Linked DNA regions of Homo sapiens. The protein of the gene in region 1 interacts with the protein of each later gene in a biochemical or structural test. Each region holds a gene or a part of one and is shown in the gene's direction. Other genes may lie near its edges.

The links.
Region 2: the proteins of GPSM1 (region 1) and OSTM1 form a complex in vitro, tested with the Homo sapiens proteins (one study listed by BioGRID).

Annotation. Positions count from the first base shown.
Region 1 is NC_000009.12:136,337,394-136,341,304, forward strand, and holds part of GPSM1 (G-protein-signaling modulator 1), read left to right. Parts: intron 1-47; coding exon 48-171; intron 172-452; coding exon 453-568; intron 569-1,161; coding exon 1,162-1,317; intron 1,318-2,313; coding exon 2,314-2,422; intron 2,423-3,476; coding exon 3,477-3,600; coding exon of another isoform or gene 3,601-3,767; exon of another isoform or gene 3,768-3,911. UniProt on the Homo sapiens protein: Guanine nucleotide dissociation inhibitor (GDI) which functions as a receptor-independent activator of heterotrimeric G-protein signaling.
Region 2 is NC_000006.12:108,046,846-108,050,756, reverse strand, and holds part of OSTM1 (osteopetrosis-associated transmembrane protein 1 precursor), read left to right. Parts: intron 1-1,173; coding exon of another isoform or gene 1,174-1,225; intron 1,226-1,338; coding exon 1,339-1,504; intron 1,505-3,911. UniProt on the Homo sapiens protein: Required for osteoclast and melanocyte maturation and function.

The DNA of each region.
Region 1 (3,911 bases):
AGGACATGGGCTGGGAGGGACACGGCTCAGAGGCACTCGGCCCCCAGGAGGAACCTGTCCCTGGTGAAGGAGCTGGGCGACCGTGCGGCGCAGGGCAGGGCCTACGGCAACCTGGGCAACACCCACTATTTGTTGGGGAACTTCACAGAGGCCACGACCTTCCACAAGGAGGTGAGCCGGGCAGGGTGACAGGGTGGAGGGGCCGGGCTGCTGCAGGGGCAGGGCTGAGCCACCCTCTTGGCGGTCCCTGAAAGGGCAGGGTGGTATGGCCAGGCAGCAGGCCCGCCCCACCGAGTCCTGGCCTCATCTGCACTTGGTCCTGCAGCTGCTAGCTGCTCACCCGGACACACAGATCTCTGGCCGGCCACCTGGGCAGGGAGGCAGCCCCTGTCCGCCCACGTCAGGCCCCGGGGCTGCGCCATGACCACCTGGCCTCCGGTGTGTCTCCGCAGCGCCTGGCCATTGCTAAGGAGTTTGGAGACAAGGCAGCCGAGAGGAGGGCCTACAGCAACCTGGGGAACGCCCACGTCTTCCTGGGGCGCTTTGACGTGGCCGCCGAGTACTACAAGTAGGTGGTCCCCACAATCTCCCAGGGAGACAGCAGGCCGGGGGGGCTGGATGCCAGGCCAAGGAAGTGCCCGCCCCAAGCTGGGAATCTGACTGCCTCCCCTCCCCTCCCCAGAAGGCAAGGTGGGGTTCTAGGCTGCCCCGGGAAGGGCAGACGGACAAAGCTCATGGGGAGGCAGGCGGTGGGGGAGCCGGCCTATGGGAGGTCTGGGCCATCTGCCTCCTGGCCTGAGCCACAGAGCAGCGCCTGCCGGGTGGAGCCCGGCTGTCAGCACGGGGTCCTGTGCCCAGCCCTAAACTTAACCCCATCTCAGCCTGAGCAGTGGGCACAGCAGTCTCAGGTCCTCCGGGGAGGAGTGGTGGCGGCTCAGGGTGGTCAGGCAACTTGCCAGAGCCTGGCAGGACCCCCCGTCCCCCTGGGGCCAACAGTCCCGCTCTGTGGCCATGTGAGGGTGGGGATGAAGCTGGACCCCAGAGAGGCCCCAGTGGGATTCCGGGGCAGGGGACCATCGGGCAGACTGCGTCCCCATTCTTACCTTCCACCCCTCACCCTGGAGCCCTCCTCCTGGGGGCTGACCCTGCCACTCTGCACAGGAAGACGCTGCAACTGTCTCGGCAGCTCAGGGACCAGGCAGTGGAGGCGCAGGCCTGCTACAGTCTGGGCAACACCTACACGCTGCTGCAGGACTACGAGCGCGCGGCCGAGTACCACCTGCGGCACCTGCTCATTGCCCAGGAGCTGGCCGACAGGTGCGTGGGCGCGGACGCGGCGGGCAGACCCGGCCCGGCCCACAGGCTGAATTACCGCGGCCCAGGCGAGGTGGCCTGGGTCCCATCCCCTGCTCTGCCACTGACCATGCTGTGACCCAGGAGTGGCAACGCCACTGTGGGGACTGAGCCAGACAGTGTGGACATTGGGCCGGCCACTGACCCCTGGCACAAGCGGGTGGGGTCCCCCTCCCATCCCTCAATTCGCCACCCTGTTGCCCCCACCACCCATGTATGTATGTAAATATCACTCTCTGGAGAGAGACAGGCTGGCAAACCACAGGCCCCTAAGTACTGTCTTGTGTGCAGGTCTGGGGTGGGTGGTGGCCGGAACAAGGGGCTCAGAGCCACAGGCCTGTGGCCTTTCACAGGCAGCAGAGAGGAGAGGTCTTTTGAAAGGCTGCCCTGCCTGGAGGCTTAAAAGTGGCCCAAGGTTTTCCTTTGTGGCGTGGTGAGGAGAATGTTCTGGAATAGACAGAGGTGCCGGTTGCACAGCATGAATGTACAAAATGCCAGTGGATCGTCCACGTGAAAATGATCAAATTCCTGTTAGACGCATTTCCCTCCAATATAAAAACAACCCCCTCACCCAGTGACTTGGAGGGTGCCCGTAAGGGTGGAGGGAGTGCAAGGGAGGAGGCTTGCCGGCCGCCAGGGGGCGAGCGAGGCCAAGGGCCCAGAAACTGCCCGCAAAGGCAGAGCCGGCCACAGGCCAGGTTGCTTGGACTCTGCGCTAATCCTTTTAATGGGAAGAAAAAAGGCAGAGCTGATTGGGGCTTATGCTTGAAGGTGGCAGAATTTGTGGGAGGTCCAGCTGGGGGCATTATCCTGTCATCCGGCCAATGCCCCTTGGGCCTGGGGGCCCCTGATGACCCTCGAAGCCAGGGTCATGCTGGGGCCGTGACCACCAGGGGAGGGGCTGGGGCTGGGGGCTGGCCTGGAGAGGGCGGGTATGAATCTGGTCTCCCTCTCTGGCAGAGTGGGCGAGGGCCGGGCGTGCTGGAGCCTGGGAAATGCCTACGTGTCCATGGGGCGCCCAGCGCAGGCCCTGACCTTCGCCAAGAAGCACCTGCAGATCTCCCAGGAGGTGAGCCAGGCCTGCCCCCAGAAGTCCCGGGCACTGCCCAGCCCACTCCAGACGGGCCGGGTCCCCTCTGCCCCGAGCGAGCGTGTGCGTGCCTGGGCCCCCCTCATCCTTTCAGGGCCATTGCAGCTGCCTGGTCCTTCCGAGGCCTGGTGATGACATGTCTACCATGCCCGGGGGTTTTTCCTGCAGCCCCCAGCTGGTGCCTTCCTGGGCAGCTGCGTCTCCTCCTCCTTGGAGAGTTTGCACAGGGTCTCTGTGGGCTCCGCCCATCAGCGCCCTCCTACTGTGGTCAGGGCGGAACATCACAGATGAACTGTGGGCCTCCCGGCTCCCGGCCTGTCCTTACATCACCCACTCCCACGCCACCTCCCTCTGCACACCCCGAGCCTGTTCATGCTAAAGACGGTGCCAGCCCCTACTGACCACCATAGACCCATGTAGGAGGTGGCCGGGTGGGGAGGCCTGCAGGTGCCCAGGTGAGGGTGGAGAGGGGCGGGCATGGGAAGGTCAGCAGAGCCCTCGTCTGAAGAGCTTCACTGGCAGCCAGCAGGCAGCCCCCGTGTCCCTCTGAGTGCAGGCTACAGCCTCCAGGGCCTTCCAGGGCTCCATGTGGCCCTCCCCCCAACCCCATGCCACCTCTCTTCTGCTTGACTTAAGCAAACAGTTAGTTCCTGAGTGATGTGGATGTTCCCGGGAGGGTCCCCCACAGAGCCTCGGCGCACAAGGCAGGGGCTGAGAGAGGTGCAGCCGGGCGGGGCCGGGCCCCTCGCGCACCGGAGGGCACAGGCCCAACCGCCTGGGACCCCAAGCATCTCTGGGGTGAACTAGGGGCTGTTGAGGACCTGTGGGGCCACCTCACCCAGGGACAGACCCCCAGACTCCACCTCCGGGTCCACAGTGAGTCCTGGTTCCCTCAGAGGCCCAGGGGTCAGTGACCAGTTCAGGTCACTCAGAAGGTCAGGGACGGGTGTACTGGGGGCCATTAAGGTCCCCTTGGAGCCCACAGCAGGGCCCCCAGCCACACCTGCCCGCTCCGCCACCCCACTCGCCGCAGATCGGGGACCGCCATGGGGAGCTCACGGCCCGCATGAACGTGGCGCAGCTGCAGCTGGTGCTCGGCCGCCTGACCAGCCCGGCAGCCTCAGAGAAGCCTGACCTGGCCGGCTATGAGGCCCAGGGTGAGTTCCAGGGTTGTGGGGGGGTCTTGCTCCCCACAGGCACGGACCGCATCAGGAGCTGCGGAGGGGTGGGATCGAGGCCAGGCCAGCATGGCGGAGGTGGCAGCCGCCAGAAAATGGCGCCTACAAGCCAGTTCTTCTTGGCCTCAGGGACAGCACAGGCCTGAGGTTCACCCTGAGCCCTTCCCACCCGCATCCTGAGTGGCGCTGCAGGGCTGCTGGATGAAGGACAGGAGGTGGTCGCCTGTTGCCCCACTGGCTGCTCCAGGGCCTCCACCCCCACCTCCCCCTGGAGCCCTCGGTGCAGGGAG
Region 2 (3,911 bases), on another chromosome or scaffold:
AATTTGAAAATATGTGCCATTTGCAGAGGTGTAGGTATTGTTATATGTTTATATTTCAGTTTCTTGTGCACTTGTTGCTAATTTAAGAAGTTTCTGAGCTGGGCACGGTGACTACACCTGTAATCCCAGTACTTTGGGAGGCTGAGGCGGGCAGATCACGAAGTCAGGAGTTCAAGACCAGCCTGACCAACATGGTGAAACCCCGTCTCTACTAAAAATAGAAAAATTAGCCGGGTGTAGTGGCACACGCCTGTTATCCCAGCTATTCAGGAGGCTGAGGCAGGAGAATCGCTTGAAACCGGGAGGGAGAGGTTGCAGTGAGCTGAGATCGTGCCAGTGCACTCCAGCCTGGGCGACAGAGCGAGACTCCGTCTCAAAAAAAAAAAAAAAAAAAAAAAGACGTTTCTGGATTTCACTACATGTTTCAGAAGCCATTCCTCAATCACTTCCTATTCCATTGTTTTATTTTCTTATATCTATTACCATCTGAAAATATTTATTTATTTATTTTTAGTCTGTCTTCCTCACTAAAATATAAGCCACATGAGGACAAGGACTTAGGCTTTTTTTGTTCACTATTCAGTATTTAGGACAGTATTTAGGACAGTCTAGCATATAATGGGCTTAATAAACATGTATTAATTGAATGGTCAAAAAAAATTTTTTTTTCTCCATTTTATAGCCTGCCTTTACATAGGGTGCCACTAGATGGCAATCATGCCTTTTTAGGCACTATGATGCTGGAGTTTTGGGGCATTAGAGGAAACTGAGAAATTATTGGCTCAAAGTAGAGAACTTGAGGTCAGAATTAATGAGCTTAAGAATTGAGAATGTGTGAATTATCACAGCAGCTCAGAGGGAACTATAAGAACCAATAATATTCGAGATGGTAAAAAGTACTTAAAATGAAATGTACAGTGTGGCTTTTTGTTTGTTTTTACTGCTCCATTCCTATTGCCTAAAACAGTACCTGGTTTCTAGTAGGCTCTCAATAAATAATAAATATTTTGTAAATGAATAAAACAGGGCCTAACTATATTCCTCTTCATATAAGTTCTTTGTTTGAATGTACAAATGGTTGACATTCTAGAATACTTTGGTCAGTATTATGGACTTAGAATATGAAATTTCTGTATGGATATAAATTTCTACAATGACTGTATTTTGAACCAGGTTTTTTTCCTGGCAGAAGAAGTTGTCCTCAACTATCAGTAGGTTTTTAGAGGTATGTATTGAGTCTAAATTCTAGATTCCTGTTTAGTTATTAGCAAAATAATTATAAGAAATTGAAGACAAGTTAAATATAAAATAGAAAGATATTGTTTGCTCTTGTTCCAGATGAACATCACTCGAAAACTATGGAGTCGAACTTTCAACTGTTCAGTCCCTTGCAGTGACACAGTGCCTGTAATTGCTGTTTCTGTGTTCATTCTCTTTCTACCTGTTGTCTTCTACCTTAGTAGCTTTCTTCACTCAGAGCAAAAGAAACGCAAACTCATTCTGCGTAAGTTTTTTACAATTATTTATTTTATAGATAAAAGCCTGTATTTTAAAAATTTAGGCCTGTTTTAGAAATGATAGCTACTCTGAGAACTCAAAGTAGATTAGCCTAAAAGGACTCTCTGCTTTAAGTTTTACAATCATGCTTACTAGTGAAAGAGATCTGTGAAAATTTTATAAGTGTGGACAATAAAAAGTTAAAACAGGGCTAGGTGCAGTGGCTCATGCCTGTAATCCCAGCACTTTGGGAGGATGAGGTGGGCGGATCACGAGGTCAGGAGATCGAGACCATCCTGGCTAACACGGTGAAACCCCATCTCTACTAAAAATGCAAAAAATTAGCCGGGCATGATGGCGCATGCCTGTAGTTCCAGCTACTCGGGAGGCTGAGGCAGGAGAATCATTTGAACTTGGGAGGCGGAGGTTGCAGTGAACCGAGATCGCACCACTGCACGCCAGCCTGGGAGACAGAGTGAGACTGTCTCAAAAAAAAAAAAAAAAAAAAAAGTTAAAACACAGTGTCTTTCAGATGATTAAATTGAGAAAGCTAGATTACCCCTGGAATAAGGTTGGCAACAACAGAAGAATAACAACAGAGGCTTTGCACTCCTAACATGGCAATAGCAGGGAGATACAGACAGCTCTTAGACCCATCGGAGTCATGGTAGAACCACCTAAGTGTGGCAGGCAGGAAGAAACTATAGCTGACATAACAGACAGTTTGTTTGTGAACAAATTGGAATCGTAGTTCCAAGGAGATTACTTGATATAATAGTATATGCTCAATACATATTAATTCCCTTTCTTTCTCCCTATGAAATAGGCCAGAGCAAAAGAAGCACTAACTAGAGATCCCATCCAGCTAAGGAAGAGTGGCTTCTAAGTCACGTGGCTTTCTTGTTTATTATCAGAATGAAAGTACAGGCTTATGCCTTAATAATTTTAGTTTTTAAAAAAGAGAACTGTTTAGGGGAAAAGGTTAATTTTCTTTTCTCTCAAATACTATTTGTAGTCTAGGAATGTCTGATATAAAAATTCTTTTCCCTATAAATTTCGATCACTACTTCATCTAACTTCACTTCTAATATATCTAATTTTTTTAAAAAAAGGTTACCTGTAGATCAGTTTGAACTGAATTTGTAATGTTTTGTCACCTTAAAATGCTAGCTACTAGAGGGGAGAGTCTTTGTCATGGGTGTATTTATTAAAGGTTTTTTGAAGGCTGCCAGCATTCTGTAAATATGCAGTAGCTCAGGTCCTTAAAGCACTTACTTAGAATAATAGCAAAATATTGTGGGCACCTCACCATTGAGAAACTATTTTTCAGAGCTTGGTATACTTTTAAAGTTTAGCATCTTATTTGCCTTGCTAATCTATTTAACTTTATGGAAAGTATTTACTGCTTCTGATCAGGATTTTTTGTTTGCTGTCAAAGTAAAAGTCACTACCAGTGTCACTATTTGCTATGGAAGCCACAAACCTTGTAGTCATTTCTTAATTATTTTCTTTCTTTTATTTTTCCATTCCCACATTCCCCTCTCATCCCCTTTTAATTCATTAGCAAGTATGCTGCCAGTTCTGCTTAGTCCGTCTCTCTCCCTCCACTGGTAAACCCTAGCCCAAACCATCTTCATCTCTTATCTGTACTAACGCAAGAGCCCCTTAACTGGTATCCCTCCTTCCATTTCTTGATCTACTAAAATCCATACGCCACATAGTGGCTAGAATAATTTTTTAAACACAAATTCACCATGTTTCTCTACTAACTTGGAATGCTTAATGTGTTCCCATTGTACCTAGAATAAATCCAAACTTACTTTCCAGGGTCTGCTCTCCAAGCTGTACATGACCTGGCCCATAGCCACCTTTCTAAACTCGTCACATCCATTCTCCTCATTGCTCATGGTGCTGTGGACAGTCTGGTTCCTTTCTGTTCTTCTCCACTACCAAGCTCATTCACACTGCCCCTTTTCCAAGGCCCTTCCCTCTTTACTTACCTGGCTTCTTGCAAGCCAGGTCTTAGCTCTAAAGTTACTTGCTCAAAGAGACCTTTTATGACTCCCCAGTCTAAGAATACACCTCTCCATTTGTTCTTCTGTGCCGTCTTTCTTTAATGGCACTTAATCACTTAAACTAATTTAAATTAAATAATTGGTTATTTAAATCATCTTTTTCATTTATTCTCTACTTTATTTGTTTGTCTTCCCTGCCTGAAGGGAGGAGCTAACTGCATTAGAGGTGTTGAAATTCACCGTTAGATGATCCCTGGGCTAGAATTTTAAAGGATGTGGGGATTTATCAGGTAGGGAATATAAAGGCAAGGAAGATGTAGGTGTATGTACTCATTCGTATTTAACTTGTCCAGTTTATTAAGTCATTTGAATTTTGTCAGAAGCTAGATCACTTCTAGT